Regions from separate parts of the Homo sapiens genome. Here regions 1 and 2 are each linked to region 3. Evidence: fine-mapped expression QTL. A gene starts in region 3. Each other region holds a variant in brackets. All regions are shown on one strand. Distances are between the middles of the regions.

What was found.
Region 1: its variant is fine-mapped to the expression of CRISP2 in whole blood (TOPMed, PIP 0.95).
Region 2: its variant is fine-mapped to the expression of CRISP2 in whole blood (INTERVAL, PIP above 0.99).

The regions. Positions count from the first base shown.
Region 1 is chr6:49,799,248-49,807,555 of GRCh38, forward strand. No RefSeq gene overlaps it. Among named protein-coding and RNA genes, the nearest start is that of PGK2, 16 kb to the left of the region's middle. The variant G/T (reference allele first, on the strand shown) is at 5,103.
Region 2 is chr6:49,731,843-49,740,150 of GRCh38, forward strand. It overlaps CRISP3 (cysteine rich secretory protein 3), which reads right to left. Exons shown (of 8, transcript NM_006061.4): 2 at 5,483-5,556; 3 at 4,549-4,665; 4 at 3,662-3,749; 5 at 1,861-2,006; 6 at 1,353-1,450. Among named protein-coding and RNA genes, the nearest start is that of CRISP3, 8.4 kb to the right of the region's middle. The variant T/G (reference allele first, on the strand shown) is at 4,991.
Region 3 is chr6:49,709,089-49,717,396 of GRCh38, forward strand. It overlaps CRISP2 (cysteine rich secretory protein 2), which reads right to left and starts at 4,455. Exons shown (of 10, transcript NM_003296.4): 1 at 4,387-4,455; 2 at 3,413-3,516; 3 at 2,197-2,233; 4 at 43-117. The coding sequence starts at 108.

The DNA of each region.
Region 1 (8,308 bases), 90 kb after region 3:
AAAAAGAGAAAGAAACTAAAAAAGTGAAAAGACAAAATTGAAGAAAGAGAAACTAAAAAAGGGAAAAGACAAATAAAAGAGATGAAAGAGAAAGAATCTTGGATAAAAAGCTTGAAACCAGTGCTTTGGGGACCAGTTTGAAATCTCTCTTTCTTTTATTGTTCCAATTGTAGAGTTCTACAGAGGCGATACTGGAGCCAGGCTGGGGTGAAGCCCCAAGAACAATAATTATGCTTAGGTCTGGCAGGCTCTAGCTCTCAGCTGATAATCTAGGAAAGAAGCTATTGAAGTAGACATACTGTAATATTTCCTGGAGGACAGACAATATCTGCTGGAAGTGGGAACAGGGAGCAGGAAATCATGCACTATATCATAAGAGGCTCTTTCAATGTATATTTTCCTCCAATTTCAATACACACACATAAATTTAGTTAGCACTTGAGGCTTGGCTTACCCTGCAGATTGGTAATAAAGACAATAAAGGTATTTATAAGGAGAAAAATTCAACATGTCTGAGGAGCTTCAGCATTATGAGTGAAAGCTAACCGATAACAAAATATATCTAAGGAAGCAAAATTCATAGCTTAACACAAGATTTAAATAAATGAAAAAAGTCTTAAATAATTACAATGGAAATATGAAGGACAATGAAGCCGTTATAAAGCATAACCACTTCAACATATTGGATACAAAAAATGTTGAAATATGTAACTTAAATGGATAGATTGCATGGTAAAATAAAAGCTTTTAAAATAATGAATGAGTGATCAGATAATTTGTGGATTAATTCTTGCATAACACACCAGAAAAGGGCCAAGAGAAAGTGAATGAGGACAAAGTTAAGGTGTGAGGAAATTAAAATTTGTAACAATATTAATATCAATCACAGAGAAGGCATAAAAAGAGAAAATATATAAAATGAAGATGATTAAGGTTTTAACAAATAACATCATATAATGGAATAAAAAATCAGATCTCAGGTTCAAAGTGTTCATAACATGATATGCAGAATAGCCAATATTTGAAACAAATTCACACTCTAGAAACACTACAATACATTTTAGGAACATTAACACCGAGAACATATAGTTTTCTTAAGTTTCCAAGATAGAAAAGCAGATCACTGCAAGGGAAAAGATTCAGATTGAGATCCCACAACAGGGTAACTATAGTCAATAACTTAATTTTACATTTTAGAATAACCATTATAAAAGAGTGTAATTGTATTGTTTGTAACACAAATGATACATGCTTGAGGGGATGGACACTCCATTCTCCATGATGTGATTATTTCATAAATGCTTGAGGGGATGGACACTCCATTCTCCATGATGTGATTATTTCACATTGCATGCCTGTATCAAAACATCTCATGTATCCCACAAATATACACACTTACTATGTACTGACAAAAATTAAAAATTAAAAAACTGAATTAAATACAAACATTTCCACAGTTAGCAAAAACAATTTTTAACCTAAATTTTATATCTAGCTAATGTATAATTTAAATAGGAGAGTTAATTAAAAGTAGTTCAAATCATAAAGAATATCAGAATTTTTGTCTCACTGGGAGACAAAAGAAGCTTTTTAAAAAATAAATAAAAACAAAAGACCAACTATGGGTAATTTTATTCAAATAGGAGGAAATTTAAGTGCAGAACAAATCAATAAGTTTGGAAAACTAAGCATGACTAAAAATTCTAGTAAAGTTAATTGTCCAGATAAGTAATCATCACAGTTTTTAGAGTATTTATTGTTGTTTTAAATCATAATTTGATTTTTATAATATTGCCTTGTCTCAGATGAGACTTTGGACTGTGGACTTTTGGGTTAATGCTAAAATGAGTTAAGGCTGTGGGCTGGATGCAGTGGCTCACACCTGTAATCCCAGCACTTTGGGAGGCCTAGGCTGGTGGATTTCCTGAGCTCAGGAGTTCAAGACCAGCCTGGGCAACAGGGTGAAACCCCATCTCTACTAAAATATAAAAAATCAGCCAGGTGTGGCAGTATGCTCCTGTAGTCCCAGCTACTAGAGAGGCTGAAGCAGGAGAATTGCTTAAACACAGGAGGCAGAGGTTGCAGTGAGCCAAGATCACGGCACTGCACTCCAGCCTGGGTGACAGAGCGAGACTGTCTCCAAAAAAACAAAACAAAACAAAACAAAAACTGGGGAGGCATGGTTGGTTTGGTTTGGAAATGTGAGCACATGAAATTTGGAGGGGCCGGGGTGGAGTGATATGTTTTGGCTGTGTCTTCAGCAAATCTCAACTTGAATTGTATCTCCCAGAATTCCTACGTGTTGTTGGGGGGACCCATGGGGAGGTAATTGAATCATGGGGGCCGTTCTTTCCCATTCTATTCTCACAATAGTAAATAAGTCTTACGCGATCTGTTGGGTTTATCAAGGGTTTCCACTTTTGCTTCTTCCTCATTTTCTCTTGCTGCTGACACATAAGAAGTGCCTTTCGCCTCCCGCCATGATTCTGAGGCCTCCCCAGCCATGTGGAACTGTAAGTCCAATTAAACCTCTTTTTCTTCCCAGTCTTGGGTAGGTGTTTATCAGTAGCATGAAAATAGACTAATACAGGCATATTTCAGACACACTTTGTTTTTTTCAAATTTTAACTTCTCTGAAATCAGGACGCGCCTGGCAATGAAGTGAGTTACAGATATGAATAGAATCTACTATTCATTCTAGTAAGAAGACATGGAAAATTTTGTTCAATTTGTCTTGGTTTCACTTTTCTGTTGGCAATATATGTAAAATATACCTTTCATTATCCTATGTACAGAATTCTGGGTGCTGAGATGACCAATAATCTATATTAATATAAGCAAATTTAATCAATTATTTTAGGAACAAAATAGACTAATCCTTTAGTAAGTATGAATACTTACTTTTAATGAAACAATTAATATCCCATTTAAAGCTATTAATGTAAAGTTTTAAAAAAAATTTGCATTCTAAAAAATTTTTATTTTTTTTTAAATTAACGCCTTAGGATTTATTTTAGATTGCCATTGATAGCTCATTAGTCTTTTTAAAGCATCATTTATTCCTTTGCTCTGTCTTTTTTTAAGCTTTTATTTTAGGTTCAGGAGTGCATGTGCAGGTTTGTTATATAGGTAAATTGCATGTCATGGAGTTTTGCAGTACAGATTATTTTATCACCCAGGTAATAAGCATGATGCCCAATAGGTGGCTTTTCATTCTTCACCTTCTTCCAACCCTCCACCCTTAAGTAGGCCTCAGTGTTTCTTGTTCCCTTCTTTGTTCCATGAGTACTCAATGTTTAGATCCCACTTCAAAGTGAGAGCCTGCAGTATTTGTTTTTCTGTTCCTGCATTAGTTTGCTTAGGATAATGGCCTCTAGCTCCATCCACATTGCTATAAAGGCAGCTAGAAAGAAGGGGCAGGTCACCTACACAGGGACCTTATGCTAACAGCAGAACCTTCAGCAGAAACCCTACATGCCAGAAGAGATTGGGAGCCTAGTCAACATTCTTAAAAAAAGAAGTTCCAACCAAGAATTTCACATCCAGACAAACTAAACTTCGTAAGCAAAGGAGAAATAAGATCCTTTTCAGACAAGAAAATGTTAAGAAAATTTGTTACCACTATATTTGCCTTACAAGAGGTCCTTAAAAATTGAAAAATAACTTCTATATGCCTGCATAATTGTCTTGCAATAGACAGGAGTCTTATTTTCCTTTTTGACTTTGTGTTTTTACAGAGCTCAAAACTTTCAGTAGGACAGCCAGGCGCGGTGGCTGATGCCTGTAATCCCAGCACTTTGGGAGGCCGAGGTGGGCGGATCACGAGGTCAGGAGATCAAGACCATCCTGGCTAACACGGTGAAACCCTGTCTCTACTAAAAATATAAAAAATTAGCTGGGCGTGCTGGCGGGCACCTGTAATTCCAGCTACTCGGGAGGCAGAGGCAGGAGAATGGCATGAACCCGGGAGGCGGAGCTTGCAGTGAGCTGAGATCATGTCACTGCACTCCAGCCTGGGTGATGGAGCAAGACTCCATCTCAAAAAAAAAAAAAGAAAAGCTTTCAGTAGGACATAAAAGATTATGACTAGGGCAACCAATTACTGAGTTTTCATAAAACAAATCTTTTCATTAGTCTAGGGTTAATGTTTAATTACAGTTGTAATATATCCAATAGCAGTCTCCATAATAAAAACCATGTTTTATACTTTTTAATAATTTTATAATGTTTACATGCATAAACATTTTATGTTTTATAATTAATCATATTTAATTGATTTTCAATATCTTTAAAGTTTTGCAGTGTAATCTACTATGTGGTTTAATCTATAATAATATGCTGAAAATAACACTGCCACAGAGAAGGGGTAGAGGCTGGAGTTGAGAGGGTTGTAGTCTGTTTCCTCCCCCTGACAGTAATCCTGGCATATGCCATGAGATTTCTGTGCTGCTGAAATACTCCATGATTGAAAGGCTGTGGTCATAAAGAGGGGAGTGGGAAATATTAGTTTGTCTCACATTTTTGAGATATGTGAGCTATGTACCATATTAATCACATTTGGATTCTGATATGGGTTGGCTGTGTCCCCACCCAAATCTCATCTTGCATTATAGCTCCCAAAATTCCCACATGTCATGGCAGGGATCCATTGGGAGGTAATTGAATCATGGGGTTGGTTCTTTCCCATGTTGTTCTCGTGACAGTGAATAAGTCTCACAAGATTTGATGGTTTCATAAAGGGAAGTTCCCCTGCACAGGCTCTTTTTGCCTGCCACCATGCAAGAGGTGACTTTGCTCCTCCTTTGCCTTCCACCATGATTGTGAGGTGTCCCTGGCCATGTGGAACTTTGAGCCATTTAAACCTCTTTCCTTTATAAATTACCCAGTCTCGGGTATGTCTTTATTAGCAGTGTGAGAACACACTAATACACGTTCTCACAAATTATTTTAATTTTTGAAGCAACTTGAATCTTTCTCTTATGGGGGAGGTAATTTGTACCCAGATCAATCAAAGAAATCACTGTCTATGGCAGCTATAGCTTTACAAAATGTATTTCTTAAATAATAAGACTTGAAAATTAAAATTACTCCTTGATCCATGG[G/T]TTGCAGAATTGGTGTTGTGTTAGTAGGCATGAAAACAGTATTAATCTCCTTGTACAACTCCATCAGAGCTCTTGGGTAACCAGGTGCATTGTCAATGACCAGTAACATTTTGAAAGCAATATTATTTTGTCAGTATTCCGTCTCAACAGTGGGCTTAAAATATTCAGAAAAATATGCAGTAAAAAAATGTTCTGGGCTGGGTGCGGTGGCTCATGCCTGTAATCCCAGCACTTTGGGAGGCCGAGGCAGTTGAATCATGAGGTCAGGAGTTCCAGACCAGCCTGGCCAACATGGTGAAACCCTGTCTCTACTAAAAATACAAAAATTAGCTGGGCGTGGTGGCGTGTGCCTGTAATCCCAGGTACTCGGAAGGCTGAGGCAGGAGAATCGTTGGAACCCAGGAGGCGGAAGTTGCAGTGAGCTGAGATCGCGCCACTTCACTCCAGCCTGGGCGACAGAGCAATACTCCGTCTTGAAAAAAAAAAATATTCTGGAAGACAGCTGCTTAGAAGCAGCTGTAGTCTGCAGCTCTCATGGAGAAGAATGAAAATTTCGAGTGAATTCTACACCTTCAACTGAGGTAACTGGGTTAACCAGGTTCTGGCTTTGGGACTGACTAGGTGGTCACATGATCCACAGAGAGTGAGGAAAAGTAGGGTGGGGTGATGGTCCACCCAGGAGTGTCATGGAATCAGGGGAACCCCTACCCCTAGCTAAGGGAGGTGGTGAGTGATTGTTTGACCCGGGCCAGGAAACCACATGTTTCTCATGGATCTTTTCAGCCCGTGGATGAAGAGATCCCCTTGTGAGCCCATACCACCAGGGCATTAGGTCCAAAGCACAGAGCTGGGCAGACTCTTGGCAGTTGCTCAGGCACACACAGAGACCCAGGAATTTTTGCAAACTCAGGCCCCTGGAATTCTGGTGAGGCAGATCTGTCCATTTCCCTAGGAAAGGGGCTGAAGTCTGGGAGCCAAGTGGCGTTGTTCAGCAGGCCCTGCTCCCAAGTTAAGACCCACTGGCTTGGAATTCCAGCTGGCCAGAGGCAGCAGGCTGGATACTGCATGAGATGTTCGAGTTCCCTGGAGGAGGGGCAGCTGCTATCTTTGCAGCCTGAGTTTGCTGTTTTGGCCTGCCAGCTCCAGGGAGTCTGGGTGGTCCAAACCAGGAGCAATTCCCCAGAGCAGAGCGCAGCTGCTGTGGCAGATCATGGCCAGACTGCTTCTTTTTTTTGTTGTTGTTGGAGTCTCACTCTGTTGCCCAGGCTGGAGTGCAGTGGCACTATCTTGGCTCACTGCAACTTCCACTTCCAGGATTCAAGCCATTCTTCTGCTTCAGCCTCCCGAGTAGCTGGGACTACAGGTGCCCGCCACCACACCCAGCTAATTTTTGTATTTTTAATAGAGACAGGGTTTCACCATATTGGCCAGGCTGGTCTTGAACTCCTGACCTTGTGATCCACCCACCTTGGCCTCCCAAAGTGGTGGAATTACAGGCGTGAGCCACCACGCCAGGCCCAGACTGCTTCTTTAAGTGAGACCCCAATCCATCCCTCCTCAATGGGCAGGGCCTCCCTTCAATAATTTTAGTAACTCCAGCCAATGTTTCATGGAAAGAACTCTGATCTTTCTCGGTGGAGTCCCTCAGGGGAGGGGTGGCCGTGGTCTTCACAGTTCAGTGACTTACCCTTTCCTGACTGCTGGATCTGGAGAGTTCAGGTGGTCTGGAGGAGGGGGCTTTCCCCCAGCGCAGCATACCTACTCCACCAATGGGCTGCCAGACTGCTTCTTTAAGTGGGTCCCTGATCTCATGCTTTCTGACTGAGTGAGACCTCCCAACAGGGATCTCCAGGCACTTCTTGTAATAGCATTCGGGGCGGCATCGGATGGTGCCCCTCTGAGATGGAGCTCTGGGAGGAAGGAACAGGCTGCCATCTGTACTCTTTTGCAGCTTCACTGGTAATACCTCCAGGTGCAGGGGATACCCGGGTGATTAAAGCCTGGAGTGGGCCCCCAGCCAACCACAGCAACCCTACAGAAGAGGCAGAAGAGAAGTCTGACTGCTAAAAGAAAAACAAACAAATAGAAATCAACAATAGCAGCATCAACAAAAAAGACACCACAAAAACCCCATTCAAAGGTCAGCAACCTTAAAGATCAAAGACAGATAAGCCCACAAAGATGAGAAAGAATCAATATAAAAATGCTGAAAATTCAAAAAGCCAGAGTGCCTCTTCTCCTCCAGATGATCACAGCACCTCTTCAGCAAGGGCACAGAACTAGGCTGAGGCTGAGATGGCTGAATTGACAGAAATAGGCTTCAGACTGTGGGTAATAATGAACTTCACTGGGCTAAAGGAGCATGTTCTAACCCAATGGAAAGAAGCTAATAATAATGATATAAAATTACAGGAGATGATAACCAGAATAGCCAGTTTAGGGAGGAATATAAATGACCTGATGGAGCAGAAAAACACAACAAAACTTCCCAGTGCAATCATAAGTATCAACAGCCAAATAGGCCAGGTGGAGGAAAGAATCTCAGAGCTTGAAGACTGTCTTTCTGAAATAAGACAAGCAGAAAAGAATAGAGAAAAAAGAATGAAAAGACATGAACAAAACCTCTGAGAAATATGAGATTATGTAAAAAAAAAAAAAAAAAAAAAAACCTATGACTGATTGGAGTACCTGAAAGAGACGGGGAGAACAAAACCAAGTTGGAAAACATACTTCAGGATATCATCCAGGAGGACTTCAACCTAGCAAGACAGGCCAACATTCAAATTCAGGAAATCCAGAGAAGTCCGGTAAGATACTCCATGAGATCAACCCCAAGACACCTAATTCTCAGATTCTCCACGGTTGAAATGAAAGAAAAAATGTTAAGGGCAGCCAAAGAGAAAGGCTAGGTCACCTACAAACGGAAACCCATCAGACTAACAGCAGACCTCTCAGCAGAAACTCTGTAAGCCAGAAGAGATTGGGGGCCAATATTCAACATTCTGAAGTAAAAGAATGTCCAACCCAGAATTTTGTGTCTGGCCAAACTAAGCTTCCTAAGTGAAGGAGAAATAAGATTGTTTTCAGACAAGCAAATGCTGAGGAAGTCCATCACCACCAGGCCTGCCTTGTAAGAGCTCCTGAAGGAAGCACTAAATATGGAATAGAAAAACTGTTACCATCCACTACAAAAACACACTGAAGTA
Region 2 (8,308 bases), 23 kb after region 3:
TGTCTACAGGTGGTGTGTATGAGATGTTTATGTTTGCCAAGAATGGGAATGTTAGGGAAAAAAAGATTTAATTAATACTAATCTCCTCTGTGTGTTCATCTTACAGTGACTAGCCTGTACATCATTGATGATTATTTTCCTATCGGTAATTATCATCTGAAAATACAAGAAAGTCAAAGTCTTAATTGCACTAAGTAGGCTAACGGTCCAAGGCTATGTAGCTGAATCTCAGCCTTTCTTCACAGAATATAGCTGTTGGTGTGTGAGCACTTAAGAAAATGTGAAATAGATATCAAAGTGTTCTGGAAGTTCTCTTTTCCCTGTTTTCTCTCATTACTAATTCCAACTCTCACTTCAGATGCTGACTCCAGATGCTCTCCTCTAATGACCAGGCATTTGGAGGCAGTCTCCCAGGGTCTTTCAATTTTCTGTATTAACAATGATAATTCTTTGCTGAAAAATGACCTTACAGGTCATATTTCTCAGACTGGAATCCTACATCACCTGGGATATCTACAGCCTCAAAATAAGCCATGCAGAAAGCTGAGTTTGGGGAAAACCCCTCCCACTAGTGGTGAACAACTTCAAATATTAAAAGGAAATTAAAGCTAATAGATATGTTGTGAATATATCTTCAATATATCCACAGATTTTTTTTCGTGAGTAGGTCAACTATATTGCTTGAGAAAAAAAAGTGGACTTTCTGCAGAAAACCCGAGATAATTAAGAAATTAGGATCTTAATGGAAGGTTCCATGAAATTTTTTTTGTGGTAAATTCTAAGAAGCAAAAATTTAAGACATTATCTTTTCTTGGCTATTTGAAATATATTGGGGATCTCTTAAAAGTCTTTGAGGTCCAAGATTTAATCATTTCTTAATGTATAATGTGAAATTTTCTGATAAGCAGGAGTAAGAGCATTTGAGCAGAAAGGACTGATATTGCTAAAATGGGTCATTCCTTATTTGTTTGTTACCTTACTTTATCCCTGGACTAATTATCAAGCTTCCAGTTTCTCGTGTGTAAACTTAGCATGAACTGATAAAATTATATTTAGATAACTACACACTACATGTACTTATGAAGTAACCGTGAGCATAGCAAAAGGCAATTGAGAGAGGAGACAAATTATTTTAGGCATGAGGAAAGACAGCTCCCTGTTCAATAATACTTGGAACTGGAACTGAAAACTTTATCTTTCTGAGAAGTTGGTTGAATGTGTCTCAACTTTAGAAAACATTTCTAAAGATTAATCTCCTTCACCTTTACTTAAATATGCTTTTTAGTTTTTTTTTATTAAATGTTAAATTGTATTTAGCATTATTGACAATAAACGCTAAAATATATACTTACGCAGGACAATATTGGCAAACATAGTAGTATTTTAGAACTTTTTGATTGGGACAGTAGGCATTTCCACATCCAACGAGGTATGAAGAGTACCAAACAACCTATAAACCAATAAGTGAAGATATGAGAGCACATTAGAGAAGAAGGAAATACCAAAAAACAAATAGTAGGAAATACAAAATGGAGAAGAATGTTACCGACATATTTTGTTTTCATATACCTTATGGCTATATTTAGTTAAATTATTGAATCAAACTAAAACACTTTAAAATATTACATTTCCATGTACATTCCTTTTTGAGACCGTTGGACAAAGATTATGCTTCCCTACCATGATCCTGCAGTCTACTGAAAAATGACAGTTCACAGCTGAAATACTCACCAAATGCCAGACTATTCTATATTCACTTGAAATTTTCCCCAAATTCAACTTGGAATCAGTCAAAATTTGAAGAATCCTTTTTTTTTAGGGCACTTATAAAGGAGATGGTTTTTCATTTCTTCTCCTTACCTGTGTATAATGTCCAACCACTGCGTTGGGAGTCTTTGGCCCTACACCAAAGTCAAAATCATTGTACTCATCAAACCAGCTTTGGATTGCTTGTGACCATGAGCTGGAGGCACTTGACATGTAGAGATTCTCACCACATTTTAGACCTAAGAAGGAACAGACCACTCATGAGGAAAGCAATAAAGCATGCAATGGCAAAATACACACAAACACACACACACTACACACAGCAGAATCCCTGTTTTTTAAATACAGTCCCCAGTACCCACCGTTAATGAATATTGACTAATACATAAGGAGGGTGCCTCAGATCCTTATCAGCTATAAGCTGAATAGAAGCCAGATTTGCCCAATACTTGAGGCTGGTCTCAACATGCAAAACTTTGAGTAGATGGAGAAGCCTTTTTTCTTTAATGTCTGCTCTCCCTGGATTCATTTATTTACACATTGAATTCTTCACATGTGTGTGCCTTATGAGCTTTCAGCTTTGTAATGTGAGCTTGCTGAAGACAGAGATCAACTTAGTAATTCCTCTCCTGCTCTAGCCCATACTCACCAGAGATTTTCATATATAGGAATCTGAATAAGTGGTTAGAATTATTATTTTGTGTGAATTTTTTAAAAAGTCTTATGCTCAGTCTTTAAGAGCCCTAAACATGAAGCAAATGACACCATAAAAGACAATATTTTCACAGGTTACAGGCCTCCTCTTAGCAAATCAGAACATCACAGGCCACACTCTGGTCAAAAAATAAGGAAAAAAGTGCCTTGCAGCCCAGAAATACTTCAACACTTTTTCAAGCCCTAAAATTAATATTTATATTTGGATGGCTTAACAAGGAATGTCTACATGCTACTTAAAGAGAGTATAAACTACCTTTGTATAGCTCCTTTGAGAGGGAAAGAAAGAAGCTAAGATTTTAACAATAGATTGGGATTTTCAAGACCATTTCTTTCAATCTTCTCGTGACCATAGTTACCCCCTTTCATAAATTTATTATAGTTTTATATCAAAAATATAGATAACAGTGGCTGTCCTATTTTCAAAACAAGCCAGTTATTTACCACTTGTAAATTTGGTTTGCCTTTACCTATGTTATTTTTGATAATTTAATAAGTATTTTATCTGATAGCTCATCCATATGATATTTTATCTAATTGTTTTTATATTTATTGATGTATAGGTTATGTCTTGCAGGTCATTTTTTTAGTTTAATATAGTATGCATTGTAAACATCCAGAAAATATAAAAGACATGGCTTACTGTCATCAAAAATTCAAAAGAAAATAATAAAAGTTAATGCTAATGTTAAATACGTTTTTCATAAAATTCAGGAACAGTTTGACAAAATTTAAAATATTTTATAGAAAAAAAATTAAGTAGGTTTCAAAACACAAATAGGCTGCATATTGTCACTAAAAAGGGTACTGATTTAGAAGCCAGAAATTCTAATTCCAAATTTCCTATATATGACATTAATTGCCAATCATCATTTTCTTCCAGGCTGTTGATTTTCTAATCTCTGTAATTGGGAAAGAGATGATCTGTAACCTGCTTTACTCCTGAGCTGATTGAGAGGTAAAAATATGATACTGTGTGAGACGGTTTTTGTAAAATTTATTTAAAACAGTAAGCACAGATGGTGCTTCTCAGAGTTATCTCTACATGTAGATAGTCCATATTGAAAAAGGTAGCATTAGAAGCAATATTTATTTACAAACTTTTCTTAATGCAACATCATAACATGGTTTATTATTTTACTTGTTGATTTATTCAACAAATATTTCCTAATTTACATACTTGTCATTCGATCCTTTGGGTTACTGTGTCTGTAATTGCACTGGTTTGCCCACTTTTGGGCATTTGCTGCAGCCTCTTTGTTCCATTCCTGAAACAAGGACAGAAAAAAGATATCCACTTAATGTCTCAAACCTCAAAGGAGCATAAGCTTTATAATCAGGTTATAGGTTGATTTACATCATCATAAAATTTCTGTACAAGCATCTTCTGATTTTTATAGTAATCAAATGTATATATTTTTTATGTGCTTTTATCTGCTCCACAAAGAAATATAGGTAATATGCCTACCCTAAGTAATCAAAAAATCTAGGTTTATGGTCCAATTATTTATCACAGGACATCAGAAACACCTAAAGATTTTTTGTAATGGTCCTGTTCTAAATATTGATAAACATGTGGAGGTGCTGAGATTGCTTTTCCAACAATGAAGTAATTAGCTGGCTTACTTCATTTCCAGTTCTTTTTTTCTTTTTTTCCCCCTCACTGAATATGTTCGGGAGACATGTGGCCTTTGGTACAGGGCCCAGAAAAGTAGATTGTTATTTACCCTACATGGCATTTATCTTAAAAGGAAAAGGTCTTTCTGATCTCAGATTAGGACAGATAAGATAAGGAGCAGAAAAACATAATGGCTTTTCACCGTATGTCCAAAGATTAGGTTTTAATTCTGCCTCCATAATTTAAATAGCCCTATGAATTTGACGTTATGCAACCATTATAAAGAGAAGTTAAGAAATTCAGCTCTGCCCATTACACAGCTCAAATGAAACAAAAAAATACAGAGAGAACTTTGTAAACTTCAAAGTTATTAAGAGATATTAGTTGCCAGCCGCCTACTCCTTCCACAGCTTGTTCACACCCCTCTCCTTTGCAATATCACCTCTTACCATCTTCAGCATGTTTCTGGCAGGGGGAGATACTGCTCTCCTCAGTTCATTGTGCTTATTCACAATCTCCCTTTGCACTTGTGTTTGGGTGGTTAACAAAGCAGTAAAAGCGGGATCCTAAGGGAAAATAAAATTACAATTATCTTTTAACATTGTTGGAAATTGCACATAATAGTAACTATGTTAGTTCAAGGGAACAAAGACCATTTTTAAAAAGTGTTGCCAATGCTAGGTAAACATTGTCAATGACTGCCAAAGCTATGACTTTTTAATGGAAAAGTATTAGATGAAAGTTTTCAGAATGGGGATATAATTCATGGCATGACAAACTAAAATCTCCTCTGAGGCCACAAATACCAATTTCTGGGTTAAGAGAGGTCTTAATGTGATTTTTCTAAATATATGAGTGATAACATCTTATAGTGACAAGGGTACATGATAG[T/G]AATTATTAAGACATTCACACTCAGGCTGCAGCAAAGAAGTTGTAAAGATTGAGGCATATGATTTACCCTAAGACTCTAGGGGGAATTTCTGCCTGAAATGGTGTCTGGTATTTAGAAAAAATGCTTAGGCTCAGCCTAAGTGCATGTGTAACATGCAATACTCTAGTAAAAGAGTTTTATGTATTACGTAGCAAATATTATGGGATCACTCAAAAGATAGTTTTACCACATTAAAAAAAATCTCCAAGGCAATTTGCGGGGTGGAGCAAAGTCATTTAATTAATGAACTTCAATACCCTCATGTGGCTAGGGGCTACCATATTGATCACCACAGCTTTAAACATAATTATGTTAACTACCTTGAGCTACTAATGAGTACTTTATGATGTACCAGACACTCTAGACCTTTTCACTTTTGAAGATTGATCTAGTAGCTTGCCATCCCTCATGGTTGCCTGAATTTTTCTGAAGATTTTTGACTTCAACCATACCTTATCTTCATTTGCTGGAAAAGATGGAAGCAGCCCAGCAACCAGGAACAACAGCACTGGGAATAATGTCATTGCTGGGAAAACAAAACCGGTGGAACAGGGATCTGCATTAAAATGATTGGTACATGCTGTTGAGTAACATGGGGGTGGGAGAAACGTAATGACCTCCATTATCCCAAATTCATTATTAATGTAACAGGAGAAGACTTGTCACATGGAGCCAGCAGAATGACAGTGGATTCAGCTTTCAAAGTATGCATTCAACTGGGACTATAAAGAACAAACCAAAATTCCCGACTGAAGCCCTTGAAGCATGCCTATAAATGCTAAGGACTTTCTACCTCCTTCTTCCGCAGCTCCGCAGTCTTCTCTGTGTAACTACTGTCTTTAGGTTGTAGGAGTGGATTCTTCACAATAACAATTCAGTAGCTTCCAACTGTGTTTATTACTGGGATACTACTGCATTAGCCCTTGCTGATTTCCTTAAGTGCTGTCTACACTTTTATAAATATAACCTTATTAACATTTCTTCAAATTAAAAGTTAGCATGTGCCAGTTCTTTTCCGTCAGGGATCTGGCTCATATACTTGCCATTCTTCAAACCCTAGAAAGTCCTCTACGTATATGCTTTTTATGCATACCTTTAAACTACTCTCTTCAAGTTTACCCATGCAGCCAGCATCCTAACTCCTTTCCTCTCAAAACTTTCTTTAATACCATGCCTCAAATTTAAAAAGGCAACATTTTTTTCCTCTGGATCTTAAAACAAAAAGGTAATAATTTGATTCTCATGTTTAAGGGATTACTCACCCTATCTGTATTAATATCCTTAATATGTTCACATTCTTTATCTCACTAATTCAACTTCTTAGAATTCTACTGAAATTATAAACTATACTAAAAAGTTTTAAGCATAAAATTTTCATCATGTTATCATTTATAAGGGTTAAAACATTGTAAATTAATTACATGCCTAGCAATAGGGAGATATAATGTCTAAGTAAATGAGAATACATCCTCTTATGGCAGTATATTAGACATAAAAACCACTATACATTTATGGTTGTTTTGTAACCTCAGAGAAGAAGCTTATGCTTCAGTGTTAAGTTTAAAAACAAGAAAGCAGAACAAATAGTATATGGTAGATCCTTAGCCTTCTGATTTGGACTGAACGTTAATAGAAGTAGTGACTCATCCTACAAAAGCTCTTCCTTCTTAGTTATTCACTGGTTCCTCCTGAACCTCAGCTCTGGGGGCTGGGACTGGGTCTCCCTTAGACTATGAACTTAGCTAACACCAAATCCCCACAGAACTCCCAGAGGAAGAGCTTTCCACCCCAGACTGGTTCCCAGCACTAAATTCAGCTTTCCTTCTCCTAACCAGCACCTCTGCACCCCACCACCCCGCCCACTGTGAATCTAAGTATTGGGATGCAGCCTGATATACACTTGCAAAACCCATTTTCATGCTATTAAAGTCAATGTCACAAACCATCTCGTCCCAGCATCGCCCCACAATCACCCCGCAAATATGGGACTTTGCTGGTATCCATTTGTATCACTTTTTCAAAGATATTTCCAATGGAAGAACAAGAAAATGGGAGCAGGGGAGATATACTTTTGATAACAAGTGTGGTTTTATTTTGTCCAATGCATTAATAAATACACTTGAAGTCTGAAAAAAAAAAAGAATCCACGAAAAATGATGTTGCCAGAATGCAGATCTGGAGCTCCAGAAGATTTCAAACTACTAGTGTTATAGACCTTGAAACTCACTCAGAAATAACTTAACCTGGCCCTGCTTCCACTTCTAAATCAATATGTTGATGCCCTAACTCCTAGTGTGCTGTATTTAGAGATGGGCCCTCTAGTGCGTCTCCTGCAGAATTTGAGAGCAAAAGAGGAAAAACAGATTCTTATTTTCATTTGTAAGTCAAAGACAATTAGGTATTCTTCTTTCCTTTAGGAGACATTTATCAAGTTTTGTACACTCTATTCAGGATAACATGTTATAATATTGCTGCACATGATCAAGTGAACAAGACTTGGTTCTTGCCCTCAGAGTCCTGGTATATAATTACGGGAGCTCATCATTCAAGTACCCAGAGGGGGAGCTGGTTGAATTTTCTCATGTGTGCAAAAGAGGAGAGTAAAATTTTATTTCCTTTTACAGTGATCCATTCCAATGCTTTATGGAGAGAGATGGGGAAGAATCTAGCACAATTCAGGGCTCAGGGAGTAAACAACTTGAATGAGATAAATATGATAAAGATGTAACATCAGCTTTAAGACCAATAATGGTGACAGAGAGTCGCTGTAATATTTCACTCCATCCCCACCTCTCCTCCCAAGGGACTACTGTAAATAGCAGGTGCAAGTGGAAAATGATTTGTTTGCAATTCCATTTAGTAGTAGCGTCACATAGAAGGTACTAGAAAGAATGAAAAAAAAATAGCCTCTCCTGTCATTCACTTCCATGAAGCAATTTCTAAGTGTATTAGTTATACATTATTTTCTACTATTCCTTGGAAATAAGCAGTAGATTTCTCTTAATTCATTTCACTTGAAAGAGTTATTTTGCTATGTGTAAGTCACTGAGTCCTACCTTTTATATGGTTTTCTGTTCTGTTCTGGTTTTCCTTTTTCAAAGAAATTAATAATTTATCTCAAGTGTGATTAGAGAAAAACCAAGTCCCTGGATTTCAAAGATTTATGATTTCAAATAGTGATGGTTTGCTACTAATTCCAGATCTACAGCAGAGCAAATTGTGTCTTTCTGAAGCATAAATGTATATAATACAATTAAACTGTAACATACTGTGCCTTC
Region 3 (8,308 bases):
GTTGCTGGATAGCTCTGAAAAGATTTTCCATTTTAACCTTACCTTTCCTTCTGCAGGTAAAGATGGAAGCAGCACAGTAACCAGAAACAACACCGGTAGTAAAGCCATTGCTGGAAACTAAGTCAAGAAAAACAAAGGTCTGCATTGAAATATGTAGTTTAAAAAACTTCTAAGAGGGGGAATACCAATATAATGATCTCGATTATCTCAAAGGAACTGTGATTCCCAGATTCATTAACAATGGAACAAAAGAAGAATTGCCCTATGGTACTAGTAGAATCATAATGAGGCCAACCTTGTCTTTGATAGTGACAATAAAGAAAAAGCTGAAGAACTCTACTGATGCCCTTGAGGTACATCTATAAAAGAGAGAGACCTACTCCCTTCTTTCTGCCTACTTCTGCTACCCTTACGCCATCAAAAAGAAAATAGATTCCTTAATAGTTAATTATAGTACTGACATTCATTCTTCATCTCAATTTTTGGAGGAAAGTTTATTTTCAATATGTACCATCTCTCAATTGGCTATTCTATACGAAAAGTAAAACGGTTTGTCCTTTTATTTATACCAGACTCTAATTAAGATGACAAGGTTGTGATTACACAGATATGGTTGTGCAAATACTTTATTAGCTGTTATTTCCCTAATGGAGTAACTAGAAGTTATGTTTATTTTCTTCCTTATACTTGTGAATATTTTCAAATTTCTCTGTATACAAAAAATACAATTAATGCATTGAAGATATAGCTTATTCAAGTTTACTCAATCCATTATTTGGTAAGAAGATTGTTTCGTATTTTCATTATCTCCTAAAAAGACACTCAGCATTTTGTTACCCATGTTGTCCTTTCTCAATATGTCAAAAAGTCTCACGTCCTTCAGATGAAACAACAAGACCACTTAGTTTTGGAAACACTCACCTTTCTGTCATTAGTCATATAAATTGTTTAATTTGTAAATTAAAGTTATGCTGCCTAGATTTGTTTCTTGTGTGTGAGACTGTCACTCCCAAATTCTTGGAAAGAAAGAAAATTCCGAACAATTTATCTGTGATGCTTCTCAGGCTTCACTTACTGTAAATAGTGTATCATTGATACTTGTTCCATCCATTGCCTTTATGCTCAATTATGTGCAAAAAAGGGATGAGGGATGAACAATTATTGACGGTTCATGGAAAATGATATACAATTTCACTCCCATACCTTACTGGGTATTACTATTTATATTGTATGGATGATGTAATTGAGGCTTAAGACAGTTAATTAACCTATGCCAATGCTACGTTCTTAGGTAATGTCAGAAATTAGTCTTCATCCAATTATGACTTCGAAGTCAATGACTTTGAAAGAGACATTGACTCATTGAAAGAGACACAGTTTTAATTGGGAAAAGGCAGACATTGTTGCAGCACAATGGAGACCCTTTATTTTTACTTTAATAATTCCCTTATTAATACATAACTGTATATGTTAATAGTAAAATCATTAATATGCCAGCTTATACAATATACTTAAACAGCCATACTTTTCCATTTTCCTATTAAAGGTAGTTCTAGTATAATTGTCTCAAGTCACAAACATGAGAATTAATTCCATTACTTATTTTTAGAATAAAATGTAAAAAATTTTTACATATCAAATTTTTTTGTGTGTGTGCGTAATATTGCTGTAATTTACCTTCTTAACTGTAAAAGAATAAAATTAACTTGAGGTCATTCTCAATACAAATTTATTAAAGTTTTGAAAATCATGGATAGGCCAGGCACAGTGGCTCATTCCTATAATCCTAACATTTTGGGAGACTGAGGTGAGAGCACATAACTTGAGCCCAGGAGTTCAAGATCAGCCTGGAAAGCACAGTGAGACCTCATCTCTACTAAAAACAAACAAACAAAAACAAAACATAATTAGCTGGGCATGGTGGCAAGTGCCTGTAGTCCCAGCTACTCAGGAGGCTGAGGTGGGATGATCATTTGAGCCTAGGAGTTTGAGGCAGCAGTGAACTATGATCACAGCACTGCATTCCAGCCTGGGTGACAGAAAGAGACCCTGTCTCTAAAACAAACAAACAAACAGACAAACAAAAAACAAAAAAATAAAATCATGGGCAAACTCATTAATCATTTTACCCTTGACAACATAAAAATGATTGGCATGATAAAATATTCACATTAAAATCAATGATTTAACACTTACTGTTGGTTTTCTGAGCAGGATGAAATATCTACTTTATCTTTAGAAAGAAAGAAGGTGGAAGGTTTAGAGCAGCATATATATTACACATATTCCTGTTTTGTCAAACTCTGGTTTTGTTAAATAAATCTAAGTCAACAAAGTTCTGAAGTAGTATTTTTCATACCAGTAACCTTAAACTTCATTGTCAGTTGTCTGATAATGCTTTTGACATTATTTGCTTCCCACATAGTTTTTAACATGAGTAAGTAAATCATGCCCTCCCTTTCTAATCAGTTCTCCCTTCTCCTTAGGCACACGATAATCTGCATGTGGCCTTTTTGGACTAGTATTTCTATATTGACAACCCAAGACAGGTTAACTACTGTGAAGGTTACCAGGATTCTGCCTTATAGCTGAACTCTCATAGTTCAGCTGTCTATGATTTTTACTTTCTAATTATCAACTACCTGTAGCTTATTGGTTACGGGTGCATTCTTTGGAAACCATCAGGTCTGGGAAATCTATGCCAAGCTTCAGTGTTTTTCTTATGTAAAATGTAGATTTTTATATCACAGGTTTTTGCTTTGAAGACTGGAAGGGACAATGTATGTAACACCTCTAATACAATAAACACATTATGCACATAATACAAATAAACGGAAATTATTCATGTTTTTATTATCTTTTGCAATGTCTGCTAGTTTGTTGAGCTCATAAGAGCTTTCTATAAACATATGCTGTTTGATTGAATTGCTAATTACTAAGTGTTTAAGAGACATGTGTTTCCTTCCAGGTGTTATAGGAAAATACAATCAGTATAATCTAATTCGAGATTCACATGTTCAAGGCCTGGTTCTATTAGACACCTTCTGGCTGACTTTAGGAAAATGCTCTAACATCTGGGCTGTTGTATCCTCATCAGCTCATTGAAAGCCATACACAGGAGCCTGAAGAGTTTTGTATAGCTCAATCACCCAGTGTATGCATCTGATGAGCCAGAATTCTATAATAGGCCATGATGCCATACTCTCCTCTTTGCTGCTCTTCTCTCTCATAACCTCAACCATCTAACCTATACTCATCTTCATTGAGTCAATGAAAGCAATGTCACTGTTGGTGAGAGTATATTCAAGGAAAAATATTTTTTTCTATTCCATATAATTACATTTTATTCCTTTAAACCCATATTGATATATAGTTGAAAAGTTGGCTACCATTTTTTTTCTTTGCTACTTACTAATGGTGAAGTACTGTGCTCTTTCTTGCAGGTGTTTTAAGATCAGGATGACATGGTTTTCCTAGAGTGTCTTTAGGAGGGCCATGGTGTATAATTTTATAACCCTAGAACAAGGAAACAAAATATTTAAAATAAAGATGTGAAGAATACCCTTATAGATGGTATCTATAATCTTTGTCACAAACTTAAATTTTGACTCAATTGTTTAGTATTGTTTCTAATAATTTACTGTATTTATTTGATTTCAGCGTTAAGACCATATTGTCCTTCTGAGGTCAGATTGTATTTCAACGCCCTGATATTTCCTTCAAACACTAACAAAAAAGTGGACTTCTTGAAGTTCAGTAACTACTAGTTGGCTAACTTGCTTGGAAAATTGCAACCTTTTTTCAAGACTCCCAACCCCTTATCTAGGACTTCAACCCATTCTTTAAAAGATCATTTCCATAAGCAGTGTCCCACATGGTAAGTATTAACTACGTGGATTTGGGGGTAACAGCTTTGTCTCTTCATTTTTTTTTTAAATTCTGGAAGCCAATAGATGATATAAAGTCCAGCAGAGTCAATGACCCCAACTCTAATTGTTATTACAGTTTCTAATAACTGTACATTCAAAACATCAATTAGAAACTAAGAGTCTTAATTTGACTTCGTAAAAAGCAGATTGAGAAATGACTTCAGGCTTCTACTATGATTCAATGGGTCTTATGTACTTAGAATGATTTCTCTTTTAAGGTAGGTAAAGAGTTTCAATAGACTAAACATAGAGAAGCATGTTGAAAGTTATGGTAGGTCGGCGCTAAGCAACAAAATTGAACTCTCAGTCTGCCCGGCATTAGCTATGTGCCCTCCAGATGCCGGAAGAGGAGCGAAGGAGGATCAGAAACCCCCTCACCTCAACGATGGTTCTCTCCCCTGTGCTTCACCCCACCTCCCCGTCCCTAGCCATTTCTAGTCTCCAATCCGGGTCTTACATTTACCCTGGCTCCAGAGCACAGACCTTCCTGCAGTTGGGCCGGCGCGTTGCGGCGTTGAGGAGCTGCGGCGCGCCCCTCTCACCGCGATTGTTCACTTGCCAGGCGCCACGTGTGGGCGACGTCACTGGGCTTTATGCTTTCATCGCCGCTATCTGCCTACGTGAGCTGCTCTCCTCCCATCGCCCCCGCCTCCCCTACTACGGAGAAAATCTTGCACGTTTTCCCTTGTGAAAAGCAGAGTTCTCTTTTTCTCATTACCACCAGTTGATGAGGAAAGAAAATGTCTGTTCGCATACCTGCGCCGTACTAGGAGGAGGAGGGAGGTCATATAAGGATTCGGGTTGCCCAGGGGGTGGCTTGAAAAAGGAGGCGTTCGCATTCAAACAAGAATGCCTGAATTAATGTAGTTCAATTTAAAGAGCTAATTAGGAGTCCACAGGTGCTTAAGTTTGCAGTGCGCTGCCAGTGTCATGCCAACGACGCACTCCAGTTACACAGGTTGTCAGTTTCAGGCTCCCTCATAAACACTTCATGTTCTTGTCCCTCTTCCCCGTTGGCAACAGTTTTATGGTGAGAAAATTCACGAAGAGTAACAGGAACAACTCTTATGAAAATACGCAGAACTCCTGACCCAAGGCTACTGGCTGCAAGTTTAGCATACGTATCAAGCATGGGTTAAAGACATGTTTTCTCTCTCAGAAGGCGGATGAGTAATAGGTGCATTTTCTTCTATTCACAGTTGTTTTCAAAGCGAAAAGGAGTGAATTCGCTTATGACCTAGAGGAAGAGAGATGGGTCAAAAGATGTCAAGCCAAGGATTAATATCCGTCATACCTTGGTTCTCTGTAAGCCATGCAATAAGAGGCTTGAGATTTCACCAACTCTGGAGACTCACTTGGGCACAACTGAAACTATAACAAACTTGGTGCTCAGTGCCATTTTCCTTTGGCAGTGTTACAAGGTAATTTCAAGGGATCAGCACACAGACATTGTTTTAGTTTTCTTTTGCTGCTTATTTCAGTTCATGCAGCACTGACTAAAAATTTTGGAATTTAGACTGCTTAACGCTTATATCTACATCCAATATCAAAATTCATTACTGACAGTTTGCCTTTCTAAATATTTATGAAATCTAGTCCTCAATCTGTCCCTCACTTCTATATTCATGTTTTCACCATATCTTGCTTAAGTTATTAATTGGACATTTCAAATACCTATATGCACAAAATCTCTGCCTACCTATTTGTTCTTTCTTTCTAGTGCCGAACAATTCATTCTCAGCACTATAATAGTCTATCATTTACTGTGAATATCTTATTTTTCATTTTTGGAGAAGAGTCATTCCTGTAATTATTACTTGTTCCCATATTCACATTGATGATATCAGAATGAGAGCAACTTGAGCGCTGTGGTGCCAGATATTGTTGGTGAACCTGAATTTCAGAAATTGGCTATGTCTGTCTTGATTATTGCTGTATCTCCAAAACTAACACAATACCAAATATAGGTGGTAGTTTGTAAATATTTGTTAAGTGAGTAAATATTGACCCGACATAGATTCTTAGAAAATACAGAAAAAAGGACATAAAATCTCTTTCTTCTAAGACTCATAGTACTATGAGAGAAAGGAGTATGTATATGAATAAGTAAAGAATACTATTAGGTAGTGTAGTTTAATGCTAAGTAGGGCGACCAAAAATATATACAGTAATTGAGAGTTCTGTGAGTTGATATGATCTGGGTAAAACCTAGGAAAGTTTTGACATTTGAACTGTTATTGAATAATGCGTATGGCTTGATTTGAAGGGAGAAAGAGTTGAAGAACAAAAGCAGATAAATCATTATATCACAAGGCATATTCAAGACAGAAAGACTGTTGAAAAGGTTGGGGAAACTTTGTATAGAAGTCTAAGGAGATTTGCTTCTCTGTATAACATGGGAAAGTAATTTCATTGACATTTTGGAGGGTTGGGAAATTCTTTGATCAAAAGAATGTTTCATAAAAGCCACCTGATCTCACTGCATGGGGTGATTTACAGAGCTGAGAAATTGATGGCAGCAAAAATAAGTGTGGTAACAATTCCCCAGATTAATTTTGTAGTAGTAGAAATAGGACAAAAGGGTGGAATATGAAGAGATTTTTAAAAAGTGTTGATAGATTTTGTATGAAGGGCAAATCCAGAATAGAAGACTTGTAAGTTTGGTGCCTGAATGTGTTGGAGAGCACATGGAAAGTAGATCTCCATTACTGAGAGGAATAGTACAGGTACTTCTAAGAACATTGCCAGGAGTCCTTTGCTTTTCTAGAAGGGCATCATTTGTTAGTTCCTTTTTCTATGGTTTGGAGTAAAAGAAGCAATGATTAGAAATGCATTCCTCATAGTAGGCTCTATAGCAGATTCTACTGTATAGGATATAGTTAAATACCAGACTTTAAATTCTCTTGTGAAAATTATGATAGAATTGGCTGAATAGAGAAGTATCTGTGCAGCTGCTGGCACTTGTGGCCTATGGAGAAATACATCAGATGAAGACTATAGAGATTTAGCTGTAGAGGATAAATGAAGAGATTGCTTAGTTAAGTAAGTAGACTCTTTAGCTCATTTTTTGATCTATTTAATTTTAGGTGGTTTGGTTTATGGGTAACCTGGGTAAAGAGCATACTCCAAACTCTTGGTATTATCCTCCCGATAGTCATAATAATAGTTTCCCTGGTACACTGTATTCTCTCAAAGGTTTTAAGTGCTTCCACGCAGCCATTGCTAGAATGTCAAATGGTCTCTCTTCAATTAGAATGACAAGAGCTGAAAGAAATGTGTGACCATGAGGACACCATAACCTATGAATGATGTGGTGAGACCAGAAACCCGAAATAATGGTAACTGAGAGTGGTGCTAAGGCCCTAAGTTTTGGTCACACTCTCACCTAAGTGAGAACCTTATCAAAAAGGGGGGAATTTTCTTTTTAAGCAAAAGCATAGGAGGCAATTGTTTTGGACTGAGTTCATGCACTAGGCCCCAAAAGACCAAACCAAACCAAACCAAAACAGAGTCGCTTGTGCTAAGACATTAAGGAAACACATAGATCCTAGAAAAGACCAGGTTTTGTTTTTCTCCTGCAAATTTCCATAACAAACATTGCTGAAAGAATAGGTATCCACCCCCTAAAATTCCCATTAAATCTTTAACCCAATTCATTTCCTCTCGCCTAGAGACGATTAAGCTTTAGATGATCATGTGACAAGGGTTCCAGCCAGTTCCAGGTGAAGATGCCTCCCCTGGCCATCAAGGAGCTACCCTTCCTTCACTAGAGAGAGCAAGGCAAGAGGTCTGTGATCCCCACACCAGTCATAAAGCATTTACAGAAGAAAGACCATCGGTTGTTCCACCTCCCATAAAGACTTATGGAGATCACATCTTTCAGGGGGAAATTGAGGCAGGAGAATAGGGCCTAGAGGCAGAGAACGAAAGGACTTTCTAGAACTAAATCAAGGGGAAACACTTCTTCTAGAAACACTGTATTGGTACAGAAAAAATTTCTCAAGTGAGCATGTGTACAACTCCATTAAACACACTGTGCATGAGGCTGCTCCCAAGTGCTAGCAGGCTACTGCACATGCAGATGGCCTAATCCAAGGGAAGAGTAATGCAAGACCCTGGAAGTATGCCAACATATAAAACCCCAAGTCAAAAGGTCAAATTGTTAGAGGAAAGAATGGCTACTCCATAGGCAGAGCAGCCCCAAGGGCTGCTGGTTGCCAATTTTTATGGTTATTCTGATTATATACGAAACAAAGGGTGGATTTTTCATGTCTCCCCTTTGTAGACCATATAGGGTAACTTCGTGACATTGCCATGGCATTTGTAAACTGTCACAACCCTTGTGGAAGTGTAGCAGTGAGGACGACCAGCAGTCACTC